Homo sapiens: one gene and its partners. The protein of the gene in region 1 purifies or fractionates together with the protein of each later gene. This does not show direct contact. Each region holds a gene or a part of one and is shown in the gene's direction. Other genes may lie near its edges.

Region 1 (7,028 bases):
ATCCCTGAGGAGTAGTAGAATAGCAGATGGAACACTGAGAAGTGATTTCCTTGAGGATAGATTTCCACAATGGAAAGGAAATGAGAGGTTCTAAGAGGCAGGCTAGCGGCTTGTAACCTACATGGAAGAGGTTATGAAATGACGAAAGAATAGAATGGGCCTGTGAGGCTAGAAGGAGATATTTTCCTTGGTCTGAGAACCATTTGCCTTGTGTGGGAAGAGATTCATAGGTGTAAGTTTCATTGGGGGAGTAGGTAGGAGTGACTGATGAGAAGGAGAAAAACTGGCCATGAGGGACAGAAGTTGGAATGCTAGCTGCTTTTTTAGCTACCTTATCAGCATAAGTGTTGCCCTGAGCGATGGGATCTGATGCCTTTTGATGGCCCTTGCAGTGAATGACTCCAGCTTCCTTTGGAAGTAAAGCGGCCTTGAGAAGAGTTTTTATTAAAGAGGAATTAATGATGGAGGACCCTTGTGTAATGAGGAAAGCTTTTTGCCCATATAACAGCATGGAGGTACAGGATATGGAAGGCATATTTAGAGTCAGTATAAATATTGACACATAGTCCTTTTGCAAGACTGAGGGCTCGAGTTAAGGCAATGAGTTAAGCTTTCTGAGAGGTAGTGGAGGGGGGCAGAAAGTATATGCGTCAGGTGTGAGGAAGAAAATAGATTTTGGAAGTTATGAGAACTGTAGAGAGTGAGTTGAGCATAGTTTGTGATTTTGAGGGCCTCTGAAAGTATTAAAGCAGCGGCAGCCGCTGCACGCAGACATGAGGGCTAGGCCAAAACAGTAAGGTCAAGTTGTTCGGACAGAAAGGCTACAGGGCGTGGTCCCAGCTCTTGTGTAAGAATTCCAACCGCACAGCCCTGCACTTTGGCTGTGTGTGATGAAAAAGGGTTGGGATGAATTAGGGAGACCTAGTGTGAGAGCAGCTTCTACGGCTGTTTTTAAGGAATGGAAAGGAGTGGCAAAAGGATTTAGGATCTGTGGGGTCAGCTAGGTTTGCTTTTGTGAGTTTATATAATGGTTTAGTCAGGATGGTAAAACTAGGTATCCAAAGGTGGAAGTACCTAACCATCCCTTGAAAGGAAAGGAGTTGTTGCTTTGTAGAAGGGATTGGGGTTCGGGAGATTAGCCGGACATGATCAGCAGGGAGAGCACGTGTGTTTTCATGAGAACTATGCCAAGATAGGTAATGGATGAGGAAGAAATTTGGGCTTGACTGAAGTAATGGGGGCTGTCCGTGAAGCCTTGCGGCAGTACAGCCTAGGTAGTTTGCTGAGCCTGATGGGTGTCAGGGACAGTCCAAGTGAAAGCGAAGAGAGGCTGAGATGAAGGGTGCAAATGAATAGTAAAGAAAGCATGTTTGAAATCCAGAAGAGAATGATGGGTTGTGGAGGGGTTGTGGAGGGAGGTATTGAGGAGGAGAGTATATGAGTTTGGCACCACGGGGTGGATAGGCAAAACAATTTGGCTGACAAGGCACAGATCCTGAACTAATTGTAAGACTTGTCTGGTTTTTGAACAGGTAAAATGGGGGAATTGTAAGGAGAGTTTATAGGCTTTAAAAGGCCATGCTGTAACAGGCGAGTGATAACAGGCTTTAATCCTTTTAAAGCCTGCTGGGGGATGGGATATTGACATTGAGCACGGTAAGGGTGATTAGGTTTTAATGGGATGGTAAGGGGTGCATGATCAGTCGCCAAGGAGGGAATAGAGGTGTCCTATACTTGAGGATTAAGGTGGGGAGATACAAGGGGAGGATGTGAAGGAGGCTTTGAACTGGGGGAAAAGGTGGCAATGAGGTGTGGCTGTAGCCTAGGAATAGTCAGGGAAGCAGATAATTTAAAGTGTCTCGGCCTAATAAGGGAACTGCGCAGGTGGGGATAACTGAAAAGGAGTGCATAAAAGAGTATTGTCCAAGTTGGCCTCAGAGTTGGGGAGTTTTGAGAGGTTTAGAAGCCTGGCCATCAATACCCACAACAGTTATGGAGGCAAAGGAAACAGGCCTTTGAAAAGAAGGTAATGTGGAGTTGGTAGCCTCCGTATTGATTAAGAAGGGGACGGACTTACCCTCCACTGTAAGAGTTACCCAAAGCATCTGTGATGGTCCAGGAAGCTTCCAAGGCGATTGGGCAGTGTCAGTCTTCAGCTGCTAAGCCGAGAAGATTTGGGAAGGAGTCAGTCAGGCAGCCTTGGGCCAGAGTTCCAGGGGCTCTGGGAGTGGCTGCCAGGTGAGTTGGACAGTCCGATTTCCAGTGGGGTTCCACACAGATGGGACAAGGCTTAGGAAGAATCCTGGGCTGTGGGCATTCCTTGGCCCAGTGGCCAGATTTCTGGCACTTGAAGCAAGATCCTGATGGAGAAGGTCCTGTAGGAATGCTTGACTGCTGCAGCTTAGGCATTTTGAAGTTCTTGTGTACTGGAGATGTGGCTGGGGTTTCTCTCACAGTGGAGGCAAGGAACTACAACTCAGAAATACATTGCTACTTGGCTGCCTTTACTCTATTATTGTACACCTTGAAGGCGAGGTTAATTAAGTCCTGTTATGGGGTTTGAGGGCCGGAATTTAATTTTTGGAGTTTTATTTAATGTTGGGAGTGGATTGGGTAATAAAATGTATATTGAGAATAAGACTGCCTTTTGACCTTTTAGGGTCTAGGGCTGTAAAGCGTCTCAGGGTTGCTGCCCAACGAGCCATGAACTGGGCTGGGTTTTTATATTTGATGAAAAAGAGCCTAAATACTAACTGATTTGGCAGAGGTCGGATAAAGGAAAAGGAGCGTTAACCTTGACTATGCCTTTAGCTCCAGCCACCTCTTTAAGAGGAAATTGTTGGGCAGGTTGGGGAGGGCTAGTCGCAGAACAAAACTGTAAGCCGGACTGGGTGTGGGGAGAGGAGGTGATAGAAGGATTATAGGGTGGAGGAGCAGAAGCTGAGAAAGAATTGGAGTCTGATTCAGCCTGGTGGGGAGTGACCTGAGGAGCATTCTGGGGATTAGGTGAGAGGTCAGATGGGTCGGTAGAAAAGGAAGATTGGAAGATTGAAAAGACGCAGCGACGCTTGGGGTTGGGACTGAGGGGACAGGCGGGAGGGAAAGAAGGAGGATTTGGGATGAGTCGCATTGGGAACAGAGACTAGGGAGGGACCGATGTGTAAAAGAATGCCTGGACATCAGGCACCTCAGACTGTTTGCCCATTTTACAACAAGAATTATCTAGATCTTGTAGGATGGAAAAATCGAAAGTGCCGTTTTCTGGCTATTTGGAACCATTGTTGAGTTTGTATTGGGGTTAAGCGGCATTGCAAAGAAAATAAGGCATTTAGGTTTTAGGTCAGGTGTGAGTTGAAGAGGTTTTAAGTTCTTGAGAACACAGGCTAAGAGAGAAGAAGGAGGAATGGAGGGTGGAATGTTGCCCACAGTGAAGGAGGCAAGCCCAGAGAAAAGAGAGGGTAGAGACACGGAGAGAAGGGGTGGGGGGTGCTTTGCCCCCCAGGAAAGTGGAGAGAAAAGAGAGGGTAGAGACACAGAGAGAAGGAGTCGGGGGTGCTTGTCCCCCAGGAACGTGGAGAGAAAAGAGAGGGTAGAAACATGGAGAGAAGGGGTGGGGGGTACTTGCCCCCCAAAAAGTGGTGTTTGCCACTAAGGGTGAAAGATCAAGGCAGGCATCCTCGCGGTGATCAGACAACTCTGAAACGTGGGTGAATAATCAAGCAGGCGTCCCCGCAGTGATTAAACACCAAGGGAAGACTGTCTTCCTGAGTCCGTGATCGGCGCCGGAGTTTTGGGTTCACAGATAAAATGCATTTCCTGTCTCTACCAGAAAAGGAAAGGAACCGAAATTAAGAGAAGGGAGAGATTGAAAGATGGCACCAAGATTGAAAGGAGAAAGAGGTTGAGGGATAGTGAGAGAGGTTGGAGAAGAGAGTAAAAAGAGGCCGCTTACCTGATTTAAAATTGGTGAGATGTTCCTCAGGCTGGTTGGTCTGAGGACCCGAGGTCATTAGGTGGATCTTTATCATGAAGCAAAGAGCAGGAGGACAGGGGATTGATCTTCCAAGGGTGGTCCCCCGATCCGAGTCATGGCACCAAATTTCACGCACGTCCATGTGAAGAGACCACCCAACAGGCTTTGTGTGAGCAATAAAGCTTTTTAATCACCTGGTTGCAGGCCGGCTGAGTCTGAAAAAAGAGTCAACGAAAGGAGATAGGGGTGGGGCCATTTTATAGGATTTGGGTAGGTAGTGGACAATTACAGTCAAAGGGGGGTGTTCCTTGGTGGGCAGGGGCGGGGGACACAAGGTGCTCAGTGGGGGAGCTTTTGAGCCAGGATGAGCCAGGAGAAGGAATTTCACAAGGTAATGTCATCAGTTAAGGCAGGAACAGGCCATTTTCACTTCTTTTGTGATTCTTCAATTACTTCAGGCCATCTGGATATATACGTGCAGGTCACAGGGGATATGATGGTTTAGCTTGGGCTCAGAGGCCTGACAAGGATGTTACTCAGGTTACTAGTTCCTGCAACTGGATGGATGATGGTGTTATTCAGTGTAATTGGAAATAAAGATGTTACAAGCAAATTTGTGGAAAATTAATGTTGAGCCCAGCTTTGGACATATTGAGATTGTAAACTCTGAGGGACATATTACCCTATTAGGTAGCTGGATATTACGATTTGGGTTCCAGGAGAGAGATTAGGGAATTATTAACATATGTATGTTAATTAAAGCCACAGAAGTGAAGATAACTCAGGGAGGAGGTATAAAATGAGTTCAGACACTGCACAAGTCTGAACCCTGAAGACACCAACATTAGAAGTGACCAGAGAACAGTGGAAAGTGTTTCAAGGTACCCAAGAGGTGAACTAAAGGCTGAAAGAAAACAATGTAATTTCAAGAAGGAGGGAGTGGTCAGTAGTTTCAATGCCCATTAAGGTCAAATCAAACAAGGAAAAAAATCATGACCATTGGTTGACAAAGAAGAGCTCAATTCCTTTCTACTCTATTCCCCACCTCCTGCCCTGGGAGATAAATTCTGGCAAAGTAAGGAGAACAGGAGCTAGATTATTTCTTTCCCAGCATTCTGTTGTGGATGATTTAAAACATACAGAAAAATGAAATGAATAATACAATGAACACATGTATATCATCCATCTAGATTCAACTGTCATTGACATCGTACCTTATTTGCTTTATCTAACCATCTATTCGTATACTTTTTTTGGTTGAACCATGTTAAGTTGCAGAGATCATGACCCTTCAACCCCACATTCTAAGTCGACATCTAAAGCCAGATTAAAATGAATAAAGGAGCACACAGGTGGTAAGTAGATAAAACAGTGAATGGAAATTTTGCTTTCAAGAAATTTGACTGTAAAAGAGAAAGCTGCTGGAGGAGAACCTCACTCAGTTCAAGGAAGTTTGTCTATTTTGTTATTTTGGGTTTTTTTTTTTGTTTCTTAAAATGTATGACTCCATATTTTTGTTTATTATTAATATTAGGCGGGAGAGCCTAGAGCAAGTTTAACTGCTGATGGGAAGGAGCGATTGGTGGGAGAGAGGCTGAAGGGAAGAAAGGAAGTACAGAACACTGAGTGATGGGAGGGGAGGCTTACTGAGCTGGGTGGGAGGACTAGCCTGGGAGCAGGGAGGACCAACTCTGCCCAGAGGGAAGAGGGCAGGAGGAGAGGAGAGTATAAATGCAGATGGAGACTGGGTACAGTGGCTCATGCCTGTAATCCCAGCACTTTGGGAGGCTGAGGCGGGCAGGTCACTTGAAATCAAGAGTTCAAGACTAACCTGGCCAACATGTCAAAACCCCGTCTCTACTAAAAATACAAAAATTAGCCAGTTGTGGTAACGCATGTCTATAATCCCAGCTACTCAGGAGGCTGAGGCAGGAGAATCACATGAACCCGGGAGGTGGAGATTACAGTGAGCCGAGATGGCACCACTGCACTCCAGCCTGGGCAACGGAGTGAGACTCCATCTCTAAATAAATAAATAAGTAAATAAATGCAGATGGATGGGAGTCTGGGGCAGGGGGCTGCAGGGGATTTCATCTAAAGACTTTCCCTTTTTCGGGAACCAGGTGGTGAAGCCATAAGGGCAAGGCTGGGAATGGGGACTTGAGGGTCAAAGGGGTTTCAAATACAATGAAGAAAGCCAACCAGGCCAGGCGCGGTGGCTCACGCCTGTAATCCTAGCACTTTGGGAGGCTGAGGCAGGCATATCACCTAAGGTTGGGAGTTTGAGACCAGCCTGACCAACATGGAGAAACCCCGTCTCTACTAAAAATACAAAAATTAGCCAGGTGTGGTGGTGTATGCCTGTAATCCCAGCTACTTGGGAGGCTGAGGCAGGAGAATTGCTTGAACCCAGGAGACGGAGGTTGCAGTGAGCCGAGATCACGCCATTACACTCCAGCCTGGGCAATAAGAGTGAAACTCCATCTGAAAAAAAAAAAAAAAAAAGCCACCCACCACTGGCAGGCCAGTGGCATTGGAGACCAGTGGGACAAGAGGGCCAAGGATGTGAGAGCAGTTGGAGGGATAGACACAGGGGTTGCGGGGGAGGGTGCTAGGAGGAAGTAGAGATAAGAGAAGGTTGATGGGAAGGAATAAATCAAGTATTGGCTCTGGAAAGGCAGGTGAGGATTAAGATGCCTAGGGTCAGTGAGAAGAGGGTATATGAGATTTCTCAGGAGGCTGCAGTCTAATTGTGGCAGTGGGATTGGAGCTGAAGAGGGCATCTCTCACCTCTCTATCAACTCCACTGACCATCTAGTCCCTTGCCCAGAGACTAGGGGTAGGCTTGGTCTCCTGTCCCTGCCCTTCTTTCCCTCTAGAGGCCTTGTCTCTGAGCAGTGAAGAGGAAACCGGAGCATCCCTCCCTGCCAGTGTCCGGTTACCAAGTTTTGGGGGCGGGCCATCTGGTGACTGTGACAGGAGCCCCAGCGCCCTGGCCAGCTCAGTCCATTCCTGGAGAAGAACCTGATGCAGCGATTCCTGCAGCTCCCGGGGG
Region 2 (7,028 bases), on another chromosome or scaffold:
ACATAGAAAACTCTCTAACTCTTTGCTAAATGCATTTATTTAGAATCTCCTAGCTTGGGATAGAGTTGGGATTAGTTAACTTGCTGAGTTTCCTTCTATCTCTTAAAATGTAGTCCTTCACTAACTAGAGGTTTTAAGAATCTCTGCCTTTAGCATAAAAGTAATGATGGCATATGTGTTACTCAGCTGTTTCTGTTTTAAGGGGTCTCTAAGAAGTATATGTCCAATATGAATAAAAATATTGAGTTTAATTTATTAAACAATATCTAGAGGTGTGACTGAGCTAACAATTCCATATACTGGCAGGATGCTGAGGTTTGAGTCCAACAGTAATCGTTTAACACTGAGCAGTTTAAAAAATGTTTAACCATTTGCCAACAAGTTTATCCTACTGCACTTCATTTTCATTCCTCATTTATCTCCCTCAAATATAACAACTTACATATTCATCTCTGCCCTTTAACAGTGCACATTTCCATTTCATGCTGTAATAGATTGTTAGATTCGATTGTGGCTCCAAGCTGTTATATGTGAGAAATAGGAAGTTGCGCACCTGTTTTGCTAAACAGAAGTTTTGGTTCATTCTGCTAGAGTCAGACATTACGAATTCAAGTGTGGGCTGGGTGCCATGGCTCATGCCTGTAATCTCAGCACTTTGGGAGGCCAAGGCAGGCGGATCACCTGAGGTCAAGAGTTCAAGACCAGTGTGGCCAACATGGTGAAACCCCATCTCTACTAAAAATACAAAAATTAGCCAGGCATGGTAGCGCACGCCTATAAGTGCAGCTACTCGCTCGAGGCTGAGATAGGAGAATTGCTTGAACCTGGGGAGGTGGAGAATGCAGTGAGCTGAGATCGTGCCACTGCATTCCAGCCTGGGTGACAGAGTGAGACTCCATCTCAAAAAAAAAAAAAAAAAAAAAAAAAAAAAAAAAAAAAATTCAAGTCTGGACTCAAAATGCATCCCTTTTCGTTTTTGCCTTCTATATCCTTGGTCTATGACTGCACAAATTCAAATGTTTTGCTTGGTTTGTCTTTTTAAGTTGATACTTAGCTTCAGCGACTTGACAACAGTAACCTTTAGTCTTTTAATACTTACCTGACAGTATTTGTGCATTACTGTAAATAACTAATGAGACTTATATTTTATAAACTAAATATATTTTTACATAGCTATCAAACAAAAAAATCCCTTCGGTTGTGATTCCATAGTGTATCCTCTGGTGAATTACTTTTAAAAAATTTTTCTTTTTTTATAGAGAAAAGGTCTCACTATGTTGCTCAGGCTGGTCTTAACCTCCTGGCCTCAAACACTCCTCCAGCTTTGGCTTCCCAAAGTGCTGGGATGACAGATCTGAGCCACCATGCCTGGCCTGTGAATTACTTTTATAAAGTGGAAATGTCTTTCTTTTGTGTGAATTATCTTAGTTGTTTCTTCAGATATAAAATACTGTGTGTATGTATGCATGTGTGTGTACACACCACACACATATTAAGTGCAAGCAGGAAAAATTTCAAATTAACCTATATGAGTTGCCTCAATTTTTTTAATAAACTGTATTTAATTAAACTGTTAACCAAATGCAAGCCTTAGGAGGAACTCTAAGATTCTTCTTTCTCGTTTTTTTTTTTTTTTTTAAATCTTAACATAAAAATACAAAGTGTTGAAAGTATAGATAACTTCTTTTTTCTTTTAAAAATATCCCTTAAAAAGATCCATCCATGTTCACTCATGTCTTTTTTTAGTGACTATTAAGACGTTGTGGCAGATGGGATAATTAAACTTATGTCTGTGATCAAGATAGAATTATCAACACTCCTGAGTATGAGGGTGTTAACACATACTAACACACGGCATTTCAGCTTTTTGTTAAGAAGAAAATTCCATACGATTTGGTTTCCTTCCATATTAGTTATAATGCGTTTGTCTGCATAAATTGGGTTTTATGTAGCCTGACTCAAGTGCTTGGAAAGAACTATGTTAGGTACATTATAGGAAGTGCAGAGTAGTAGACCGATTCCAAAAGTATTTGATTCAGCAAATCAATGACTTTATTGTAGATCCAATTTCTTTCTCTTTCTCTGCTTTACTCATCACAAAATTACTATTATCCAAAGGCTGTTTTTCTCCTTTGGTAATCAGTTCAATTCAGAAAGAGACAACCATCTGTTTCTGCAGTCCTGGACTGTGTCTTTCCCTTCATTCTGGTTAGACCCACCCAAGACCAATATTCTTACCCTAATCAACATCCAACTTTGGATTGGAGCTGAAGATGAGAGTGAAAACGGGAATAAAATGGATATTCTGTTGGAAAGATGAAAGAAAGGAGTGGATGGTGGGTAGGCAAACAAGGGTCTGCTATTTCTTCTTCTAAACTTTTAAAAAAATATTTATTTTTATGGCCGGGTACAGTGGCTCATGCCTGTAATCCCAGCACGTTGGGAGGCCTAGATGGGAGGATTGTTTGAGCCCAGGAGTTCAAGACAAGCCTGGGCAACGTGGCAAAACCCTGTCTCTATGCCAAAAATACAAAAATTAGTGAGTCATGTTAGCACACACCTATAGTCTTAGCTGCTTAGGTGGCTGAGGTGAGAGGATCACTGAGCTCCGGAGATCAAGGCTGCAATGAGCTGAGATTGCGCCATTGCGCTCCAGCCTGGGTGACAGAGGAGACCCTGTCTCAACAAATTTAAAAAAATATATGTTTTTATTGAGGTATAGATGACAAAAAAAAATTACATATATTTACCGTGTACATGTTATTTTTGTATATGTATATATTGTGAAATGGGTAAATCAAGCTAACTAACATGTCTATCACCACTATTCCCTCTTTATTAGCTTTTAATATATATTAGTTTTCTGAAATTTTAGATTGCTTCTGAGGTTGTTAATATCAGGAATAGTTCCTTGTAATATGCAATACTGAACCTGTGTCACAATAGATCTTAATTTCAGGTTTTCCTTATATCAAAGTATCCTCGAAAAACCCAAATGCTTATACGTTCACAGTTTTTATGTGGAGTATGCTGGAAAACTTGCTTTTTAAAAATTAAGACTAAACCTTTTGAATATTTAATTGTAAAGGAGGAAATAAAGTCTTCAAAGTTAAAATGATTTTTGGTTATGAGGTAAGTGTTATAAATAGGACAATGTTATAGGTCATTTCATGGCTTTTCTAAAAGAAGGCCTTACGTGACGTACCTATATTATATTCTTTAGCAAAGTTGTTTTCAATTTTAAGTAAGTTTCTTTTTTTGTGACTGTGGAAAATTAAATATTAAGGCCACTAAGGTCATTCTTGATTTTACCACACACAGATAATTATTAACACTTAGTGTATTTCCCCCCGGTCTTTATTTTTCTTTTCAGAATGTCCCAGTGAATAGGATATACCTTTTAGACATTAATAACACAAATAAATGCTTTGAAGCTGATGATGGATTTATTAAACATTGTGGCTTTAAGATAACTGAATATGTTAATGTTCAGCCACTCTCTTGTTAAAATTTAAAAAAGACAGTATATGGTAATAGCACATTAATAATTTGCATGTCCTAAGAAATGTGTATATATCTTTCTTTTGTATAAAATTAAACTTACCTGTGTAACCTGAGGTTATCAGTGTCCTTGTCTTTTTCGTTCTGAAAGGAAATCTTTGCTAATTTTTGTTTGAAAGTCAAGAGTTCATTCTTACCTTTAGCACTTAGTCTTTTTTGTACCTGTGGATTATGGATTTTGTCACTGCTGTTTTATAATTCAAGGTGATTCTGAGTTGTTACCATCTAGAGGGCCCAGTCCCCTTCCAACTTCTTGTTGTATAAAACTGTCACATTAGGCTAACTAAACACATTTTTTCCTCACCCATCTGCCTTTTCAGCTTTCCTCTCATCAAATCCTTTGAAGTACAATATAGTTAAAACAGCTTTCTTTGCTGAAGAATCAAGCAACTCTTAGAAGGATATTGAAGTGAATAAAGGACAATTCTAGCTAATAACTGTTTTCTTAAGATTCCAAGTGGAGGAAGCCCTTGTAGAGTTAGGCCTCTGACTAGGCCTTCTAGAGATAGGCCTCTGGGAAGAGGGGTGGTCTTTCTGGATACTTTCTGATCTGTCTCTCCATTACACTCTTTCTCTTTTCCTGTCCATATTCTTTCAAGTATTTATTTGTTGTTTGTATGGCCCTATTCTAAGCACTAGTAATACAGTGATAAGTAAGACGGATGTCACCCTTGCCCTGTGGGTTTACATTCTGGTGATAGGAGATAGGCAGTAAATTATTTAAGATTGTAATTAGTCTGAAGACAAATGAAACAGTATAAGGGAATAAAGCTTGATGGAGGAAAGCCTATATTAGATAGGGTCATTGGGAATACCTCTTTGACGACCTGACATTTGAGAGGAAAACTGAATGAGATAAGAGAGGAAGAATATGAAAACAGTAAAGAAAAGAATGTTTCAGGCAGAAAGAAGTGCAGTGTCCCTCAAATGGGACCACACTTGATGTGTTCAGGAATAGCAAGAAGGCAAGCTGAGAAATCACGGGGAAGAGAGGCAGGAGATAAAGCTAAAGAGAACGATGGGGACAGATCATGCCTGTATGCCACACCATGCCCCTTCTTGACATAATTCAGTTTGATGACATCATGCCCAGCATGTTCTCCACAAGAGGAGATACTCCTCTTTGAATCACACTTGCATTTTGCCATTTAAACAGTGCCTCTGCAGAAGGGGCAGTGAGGCTCTCCTCTGATTGGTTACTTTCTTCTCTACCCAGTTATTGTTAGGCTCTGTAAAGAAGGTGTTGCTAGGCCAGTGAATGAAGGTAAAAGTCAGTGCATCAAAACCAGGCATGGTGTGTGCCTATAGTCCCAGCTACTTGGGAGGGTAAGGTGGGAGGATTGCCTGAGCCCAGGAGTTGAGGCTATGCTAGGCAACCATAGCAGGGCCCCTGTCTTCTAAAAAAAAAACAAAAACAAAGGAAACAAAAAACATGAGTGCTCCAGTTCTGTATAGCCTCTCTATCAATGAGACCTGTGATCAAGCTTTCGTAAGTCACCTGTGAAGTAACAGAACTCAAGAAGAAAACCATTTTTTTCTTAGCTTATTGTCTTAATTATATGTGAATAGAGTTTATGTGAAGCCCACTAGACCCACCTCTATTGTACTGAAAAGCATTTACATTTTTCCACTCTTGCAAGCCTGGTGTAATTACAAGAATCACTTGCTGTCAGTCACAGTTCTCTTTGTTACTCAGGAGGAAAGGGCTATCTTTTAATATTCCAGACCCACTGAATTGTTTTGATTACCTTGTGCTTACTGAGGAAGAGTACTAGTTGATTCTACCGCATACATATCCTATTTCCTGTCATTAATATATCTTAGTGTGACATGAAAGGGTTATAAAATAAATTTTATTGTAGTAAAAAATATATAACAAAATTTATCATTTTAACAGTTGCAAGTGTACAGTTTTGTGGCATGAAGTATATTCACATTGTTGTGTCACCATCACCACCCATCCATCTGTAGAACTTAGTCTTTCCCAACAGAAACTTCTTACACATTAAACACTAACTTCCTATTCTCCCCTTCTCCTAGTACCTGGCAAACACCATTCTACTTTGTGTCTCTATGAATTTGACTGCTCTAAAAACCTCATATAGGAGGAATCATAGAATTTTTGTGTTTTGGAAACTGGCTTTTCTTTTAGCACGTCTTCGAAGTTCACTCATGTTATGTAGCATGTATCAAAATTTCCGTAATTTTTAAGGCGGAATAATATTTCATTGTATGTGTGTACATACCATCGACCTAAAAGGAAGAGGCTGAAGCACAAAATAGGATTCAAAGAGTTTACTTGAGCCAAAATGAGAACAGTTGCCTGGGAGACTCAGACTCAAGTATCCTTGGATATGAGCTCCCTTTGGCCATTGTTACAAGCAGGTTTGTGAAGGCATTAAATAAAGGGGACATGGAGTGGGCTGATACTAAGTTGTCTGTCAGGAATTCTCACTAGTTTATAGAAATAACTTTGGTTAATGATTGACTAACATTGTTGAGATGCAGGGAGTAGTTTATAGTGTGTGGTGCAGCATTATTAGGTTATTTTCTAGTTACTTGTGGCAGTATAAAGCAGTTTCAATAGATAAATATTTCTCATAGCTCAAAGGAGAGAAGTAGGATGTGATTGCTGTCACATTTTAATGCCTTTCTGGGCCAGATCATTTAAAAGGACTTGCATTCCTCAGATAAAAGTTTCTTTCTTGATGCCGTATTTTGTTTATCCGTTTGTCAGTGGAAACTTGGGTTGCTTCCATCCTTTGGCTATTATGAATAATGCTGTGAACATAGATGTACTGATATCTGTTTGAGTGCCTGCTTTTACTTTTTATAGGTACATACCCAGAAGTGGAATTGTTAGATTATATGGTAATTTTATGTTTTGCTTTTTTGTGGGGAAGCGGCACATCATTTTCCACAGTGGCTGTACCATTTTACATTCCCACCAGCAATGCACAAAGGTTCTAGTTTCTCTACATCCACGTTATTTTTTGTTTTTTGAAAATAGCCATCTTAATGTTTATGAAGTGGTGCCTCATTATGGTTTTGATTTGCATTTCTTTAGTGACTAGTGCTGTTGTGGGTCTGTTTGTGTGTTTATTGACCATTTGTATGTCTTTGGAAAAATATCTATTTGAGTCTTTTGCCCATTTTAATATTCAGTTGTTTGTTTTTGTTGTTAAGTTGTAGGAGTTTTAAAAATATATTCTAGATATCAGTCTCCTGTTGTATATATGATTTGCAAATATTTTCTCTGATTCTGTGGTTGCCTTTTTACTCTGTTGATAGTGTCCTTTGATACACACAACTGTTTAATGAGATTTAACTTACGTTTTTGTTGTTGTTGTTGTTGTTGTTGCTGGTGCTTGCTTTTGGTATCATACCCAGAAAATATTTTTTTAATTACTATATAATAGTACATTGTATAGTATACTATAATTTAACCAATCAATGTGGACTTCAAT
Region 3 (7,028 bases), on another chromosome or scaffold:
CAGGGTTTCGCCATGTTGGCCAGGCTGGTCTCGAACTCCTGACCTCGTGATCTGCCCGCCTCAGCCTCCCAAAGTGCTGGGATTACAGGTGTGAGCCACCGCACCCAGCCCACCAAAACTACCTTTACCAAGATCACCAGTGTCCTCTGTGTGTTAAATCATGCATTCTCAAAGCAGATAAAAACTGCTTCTTGTGAGGTGAAAAAAATATAATACTCTTTTTATGTGTAAAGCACAAATACAATACATAAACAGAGAATATTCTGTGGTATTAAAATTTTATGGTGATATTAATTAGCTTCATTTAATTATTCCACATTTCATAAATCATAACATCTGGTACCCCTAAATATATACAACTATAATTTGTCAATTTACAGTTGAAAAAGAAAGAATAATAAAAAGTTTTATGGGTGAGGAATTTGATTGGCAGGGTGGTGAGAAGATGGAGTCTAAAAGGGCTCCTTAGCAGGCATTAAGGAAAAGAAAGTTTAAAAAACACTCTTAAATCAACAGACATTTTCAATTCTTTTTTGTTGTTGTTGAGATGGAGTCTCGCTCTGTCATCCAGGCTAGAGTGCAGTGGCGCCATCTCGGCTCACTGCAGCCTCCACCTCCCGGGTTCAAGCGATTCTCCTGCCTCAGCCTCCAGAGCAGCCGGGATTACAGGCACCCACCACCACACCCAGCTAATTTGTTGGTATTTTTAGTGGAGATGGGATTTCACCATGTTGGCCAGGCTGGTCTCGAACTCCCGAGCTCAGGTGATACTCCCACTTTGGCCTCCCAAAGTGCTGGGATTATAGGTGTGAGCACCACGCCCAGCTGACATTTTCAATTCTCGTAGCTTAACCTCTTTGTGCCATGTAACAGTATTTACCACTCCATTCTTCTGGAAATACACTAATAAGCTATAGTTACTAAAAACCACCCTGTTTTTTTTTTTTTCTTAGGACTCTTCAGTCACATCTTGGTCATTCTTTAGGTCCACTTCCTTGACCCACCTCCTACTCAAATGTTGGAGTTCCTGCCATAAGCTCTCTTCATACTATGCACATTCTTTCTTTTGTTTCAATTCTCCTTTTGATTAATTCCCATTAACAAAAAATCCTGATTACTTACAATTCTGATTCCAATCTGGCTTCTCTAAAGCACCAGAAGGGTATATATAATAGTTTTTTGAATATATTTATTTGGGTCAGATGTATCCAGAATTGGTCAAATTACACAGGACCAGGCCAAGTGACACATCTCTCTCATCTCCACACACCCCCTCCTCCAAGCCTAAATGTTTTTTAGCACAAAACCTAAATGTTTCTCTTATCTTTTCACTGTACCCCATCCTCATAGTCAAGACTCTAGACCAGGCCATCACCACTCATCTCCCAACTGGTGTCACAGTGTTCAGTTACCGATTATCCAGTTTCCGCAGTGTAATTAGTATGATCTTTCTAAAAATGTAAATCGGATTGCATGATTAATTAAAAAAATTATAAAATGACTTTACATTGCACTAAGAATAAAGTCCAAACTCCTTAACAAGTTTAGCATGCTCCATGAACCAATCAGTCTCTGCTTACCTCCTTGTCCAGTTTCATCTCCCCTCTTCCCTCCACCTTCCATATTTGCTAAATTTATACTGGATTTATTTGTCTTGTGTTCTCTCTCACCTCTAAGCCTTGTAGATTCCCACAGCACACTATATTTCCTGTATCATCGTAGGAATTACATCTTAACTGTATTAAGTTGTCTTCTCTGCTCATCTCTAAATGCTGTGAGTATAGGAACTCTAATTTTGTTTGTTCTTATATACCCAGTGCCTCAAAACTCTGTGTTGAATGAATATGTGGTCAAGATATTGGCTGAGAATCAGAAGAGTAGATGCTTTTCTGGTCTCATTCTCTCAAGTTCAGTATAGGCCCTTCTGTGCCTCCATCATATTATATATAGAAGGAATACATTTTTGTTTTTAGACACTGTCTTCCAAGAATATTTTGACTATTGTAAATGCATTGCTTGTGAATTACCCAGGATGATTATAAAATGTTTAGTAAAAAGGATTTATGATGTATTTAAGCTGCAGTCAAAGCTCTGGTGGGTCTGCCTCTGAACACAGTTTCTTCTAGTGGCTTTTAAATAAGCTGGGAGAATTCTGTTTTATGACTCAAAAGCCACTAGGAACAAAAAGATGGTTGTGGTAATAATGAGTGTGTAGTTTTCTCAGAAAGTTTATGAAAATAATAATTAAAAAAATAACTGCAGCTACCAAAAGGACGATAAATAAAGAAACAGGCTAATTTACACTGCAACATGGTATTATTTAATTGTTATATGCATTAGACCTTGGTCATAATATGGATAGAAGAAGTAAGCTCTCTTTTCCTATTATAGAAGGTTAAGATGGGTTTTAAAGCTAAGCACAGTCGAGAACTTACAAGTGTTATGCTTTCATCTCAGCACTAAGGATAACAACAATAAATCTAGGAGGCTGGTTTAACTTTCTGTATTCTGAGACCTGAACTACTGCCAATAAAAACAACTTCGGTGGAAACTTTCCTGGAAAGAATTTTTCACCAGCTTAAGAGGATGAGTAGAGATCTGGCCCTAAAATAAAGTAACTACAAAATCACTTACTTTCAAAACAAGCAACTCTTTCAGAGTGTATTGTGGCAAAGGAGCACTATAAATCCTTGTGAACTATATTTTCGATAGGATGAATGATTTTAGATAACCTGTGTCGGTGCTTTTAAATATAACTTCCACTCTAAATAATTTATTAAACTTCCTCAGCATAACAACTAGAATGTCTTTTGCCTCCTAACTAAACAAGAAATGTCTTTTACCTCCTCCTCTTAAATCATAAGCTAGGCTGGGTGCAGTGGCTCATGCCTGTAATCTCAGCACTTTGGGAGGCTGAGGCGGGCGGATCACGAGGTCAGGAGTTCGAGACCAGCCTGGCCAACATGGTGAAACCCCATCTCTACTAAAAATACAAAAAATTAGCTGGGCATGGTGGCGCATGCCTGTAATCCTAGCTACTCGGGAGGCTGAGGCAGGAGAATCGCTTGAACCCAGCAGGCGGAGGTTGTGGTAAGAGGAAATCGTGCCATTGCACTCCAGCCTGGGCAATAGAGCAAGACTCCGTCTCAAAAAAAAAAAAAAATCATAAGCTAAAGCAGCACATTCATGCACTGTTCAATATATTAACTACTAACCATATATGGTTATTTAAATTTAAATTAATTAAAATTAAAACTTCAGGCTAGGCTTGGTGGCTCACACCTGTAATCCCAGAACTTTGGGAGATCAAGGTGGGAAGATCACTTGAGCCCAGGAGTCCAGGATCAGCCTGGGCAATATAGGCAGACTTTGTCTCTACAAAACAAAAATTTGAAACTCAGCTGTGTGTGGTGATGCACGCCTGTAAGCCCAGCTACTCAGGAGACTGAAGTGGGAGGATCGCTTGGGCTCTGGAGGTGGGCGTTGGAGTGAGCCAAGATGACGCAGCTGCACTCCAGCCTGGGCAACAGAGCGAGACCCTATCTCAAAAAAAAAATAAAAATAAAAAAGCCGGGCATGGTGGCTCACGCCTGTAATCCCAGCACTTTGGGAGGCCGAGGCGGGTGGATCATGAGGTCCGGAGATCGAGACCATCCTGGCTAACATGGTGAAACCCCATCTCTACTAAAAATACAAAAAATTAGCCAGGCGTGGTGGCGGGCTCCTGTAGTCCCAGCTACTCGGGAGGCTGAGGCAGGAGAATGGTGTGAACCTGGGAGGCGGAGCTTGCAGTGAGCAGAGATCACGCCATTGCGCTCCTGTCTGGGAGACAGAGCAAGACTCCGTCTCAAAAAAAAATTAATTAAAATTTCAAAAAAATTAAAACTTCAGTATTGGGTACATTAGCCACATTTCAAGTGCTCAATAGCCATGGGTGTAGTGGCTACCATATTAGCACAGATAAAGGACATTTCCATCATTGCAGAAAGCCCTGTTGGACAGTGCTGTATTAGAACGTGTTCCTAATAATTAGTCTCTACAAGGCAGATAAGAGCAGGAGCTCAGAATTCAGCTGGATTTAGGTTTGAATCCTAGCTTACTGCGTGATCTTAGGTAATTGACCTAACTTTTCTGAGATGACATTGTCTTATCTGTAAAATGGGGATAATAGTAGTATTTATGGTGTAGCATTGTGAAAATAAGATGAGATAAAGTGTCTAGCATAGTGTCTGGCCCATAATAAGTACTCAATACATTTTAGATAGTATTAATTCATTTATTATTCATTATCTTTAATGAATAAAACACTTTGAATGGGGACTGAGTACAGTAGCTTCACTTTGGGAGGCGAAGGCAGGCGGATCACTTGAGGCCAACATGGTGAAACCCCATTTCTACTAAAAACAGAAAAACTAGCTGGGCATGGTGGTGCACACCTGTAATCCCAGCTACTGAGGAGGCTGAGGCACGAGAATTGCTTGCCCATGGGAGACGGAGGTTGCAGTCAGCAGAGATCACACCACTGCACTCCAGCCTGGGTGACAGTGGGAGACTCTGCTCAAACAAACAAACAAGCTTTGTTCCCAAGTAGCTGGGATTACAGGCGCACGCCACCATGCCCGGCTAATTTTTGTATTTTTAGTAGAGACAGGGTTTTGCCATGCTGGCCAGGATGGCCTTGAACTCCTGACCTCAGGTAATCCACCAGTCTTGGCCTCCCAAAGTGCTGGGATTACAGGCGTGAGCCACTGTGCCTGGCCAAAAATAACCACATTGAATGGGGCCAAAAGATTAATTTTTGCAAAGAATGCTGTGTTCCATATGTGACTCACCTGAAGTGCCCAAATCTGAGTCTGCTTGTGGATTACAGTGCTCCACTTGAAGTCATACATTATATATTTCAGATGCTGATTTTCTTCCAAGAAAAAGGTGTAATAATAAAAATTTAGTTGCAGATCTTATGGTTGGATATTCCTGTTTCATTTAAAAAATGAAAATGAAAAGTTTATCAGCTAAAGATTATAGTTAAAATCAGCAGGTTCTATATAGCAAGTCTAAGTATTCTAATGGCACTTATATTAATACCCAGACAGAAATATAAGACACAAAGCAAGCCTACTAAGCAAAGCATCTGACTAGATAAAGTAGAAAAATTTGGCAGGTTCCAACCCTGAGGTGTCAGAGTTTATTGCTAATAACTCAAGTTGATTTCTTGGCTAAACAGAGGGCTTTAAACAAAGAAATTTTTTGGTTCTAATTAAACAGGAACCCTAAACTGTTAACAGTATTCATACTTTATTAATACAATAATTACTAAAACATATCTTAGTAACTAGTATTATTGATAACTACTGAACATGTGTCGAATGGGAAGAGGAGATCATCACCACATATTCTTTAAATGTCAGCCGCTTTCATAAAAGAAAGGGTTGATGTTGTTTTCTGTCAACAGAATCAAATGAATCAATTCTGGAAAGTCTTCCTTTCCTCTTTGGAATTTATCTTCATTCATAGAAACTGTATTCATAGGTCTTAAATTCTTTCTTCTTAGACTATAGTACTATTACTTGGAATGATTGAGCCACTAGACTAAACACCTGATACTGGTGCTTATACACGTAAAAGATAGGAACAAGGTAAGATAATTAGACATTTTTCCATTGTCCCCCATATTGCAGGGACAATAAACTTCTTATAGGAAGCATAACTAACACTCAGAAAGTATGCAAATCACAATGTAAAGCCTAATGAGTTATCATAGAAGGAACACAGCTTGTAAACATCATGCAGGTCAAGAAATAAAACATTGGCCAGGTGCGGTGTCTCACTCCTGTAATCCTAGCACTTTGGGAGGCTGAGGCAGGCGGATCACGAGGTCAGGAGTTCAAGACCAGCCTGGCCAACATAGTGAAACCTCGTCTCTATTAAAAATACAAAAAAAAAAAAAAACTAGCCAGGTGTGGCGGTGTGTGCCTGTAATCCCAGCTACTAGGGAGGCTGAGGCAGGAGAATCTCGTGAACTTGGGAGGCAGAGGTTTCAGTGAGCCGAGATAACACCATTGCACTCCAGCCTGGGCGACAGTGTAAGACTCCATCTCAAAAAAAAAAAAAAAAGGAAAATAAAAAAGAAATAAAACATTACCAGCACTCTAGGAGATCATCCCCATGGCCCTCCACTCTCCATAAAGGAAACCATTTGATTTAACGTAGATTAGTTTTGCCTGTTCTACAACTTCATATAAATGGAATCATACTGTGTATATTCTTTTGCATCTGGCTTCATTTATTCAACATCGTATTTGTAAGATTCGTTTGTATGTATATATTCTTTGAGTAAATGTCTTTTCAAATCCTTTGCCCATTTTTTAATTGGCTTGTTTATTTATTTATTTTTTATGTTTTAGAGGCAAGGTCTCCCTCTGTCACCCAGGCTAGGGTGCAGTGGTGGGATCATAGTTGACTGCAGCCTCAAACTCCTGGACTCAGGCAATCCTCCCACCTCAGCCTCCCAAGTAGCAGGGACTACAGGTATGAGCCACTATGCCTGGCTAGTTTTTAAATTTTTTTATAGAGACGGGGTCTCAAACTCCTGGGCTCAAGCAATCCTCCCTCCTCAGCCTCCCAGAGTGCTAGGATTACAGTTGTGAGTCACCACACCTGGCCCTTCTTATTATTGAGTAAAAGTTCTTTATATTTTCCGGATAGGGGTCCCTTTAAGATATATGGTTTCAAATATTTACTATCATTTTGTGAATTTTTGCTTTCTTGATAATGTCCTTTGAAGCACTAAGTTTTAAATTTGATGGACTCTGGGTTATCTATTTTTTATTTTTCTTGTCTGTACTTTTGGTATCGTATCTTAAAAAACATTGTCTAATCCAGAGTCAAAATCTATGCATATTTTTTCTAAGAGTTTTATCATTTTGGCTTTTCCAATTAGGTCTTTGATACATTTTGTGTTGCTTTTTGTATCCAATTTCATTCTTTTGTATGTGGAAATCCAGTTGTTCCAGTACCATTTGTTGAAA

What was found. The genes of interacting proteins can lie anywhere in the genome.
Region 2: the proteins of AP3B2 (region 1) and AP3S1 purify together in Homo sapiens (affinity purification with mass spectrometry; 3 studies listed by BioGRID and IntAct, with this or other methods). This does not show direct contact.
Region 3: the proteins of AP3B2 (region 1) and AP3M1 purify together in Homo sapiens (co-immunoprecipitation; 4 studies listed by BioGRID and IntAct, with this or other methods). This does not show direct contact.

The regions. Positions count from the first base shown.
Region 1 is NC_000015.10:82,699,848-82,706,875, reverse strand, and holds part of AP3B2 (AP-3 complex subunit beta-2), read left to right. Parts: intron 1-7,028.
Region 2 is NC_000005.10:115,844,935-115,851,962, forward strand, and holds part of AP3S1 (AP-3 complex subunit sigma-1), read left to right. Parts: intron 1-7,028. UniProt on the Homo sapiens protein: Part of the AP-3 complex, an adaptor-related complex which is not clathrin-associated. The complex is associated with the Golgi region as well as more peripheral structures.
Region 3 is NC_000010.11:74,140,801-74,147,828, reverse strand, and holds part of AP3M1 (AP-3 complex subunit mu-1), read left to right. Parts: intron 1-7,028. UniProt on the Homo sapiens protein: Part of the AP-3 complex, an adaptor-related complex which is not clathrin-associated. The complex is associated with the Golgi region as well as more peripheral structures.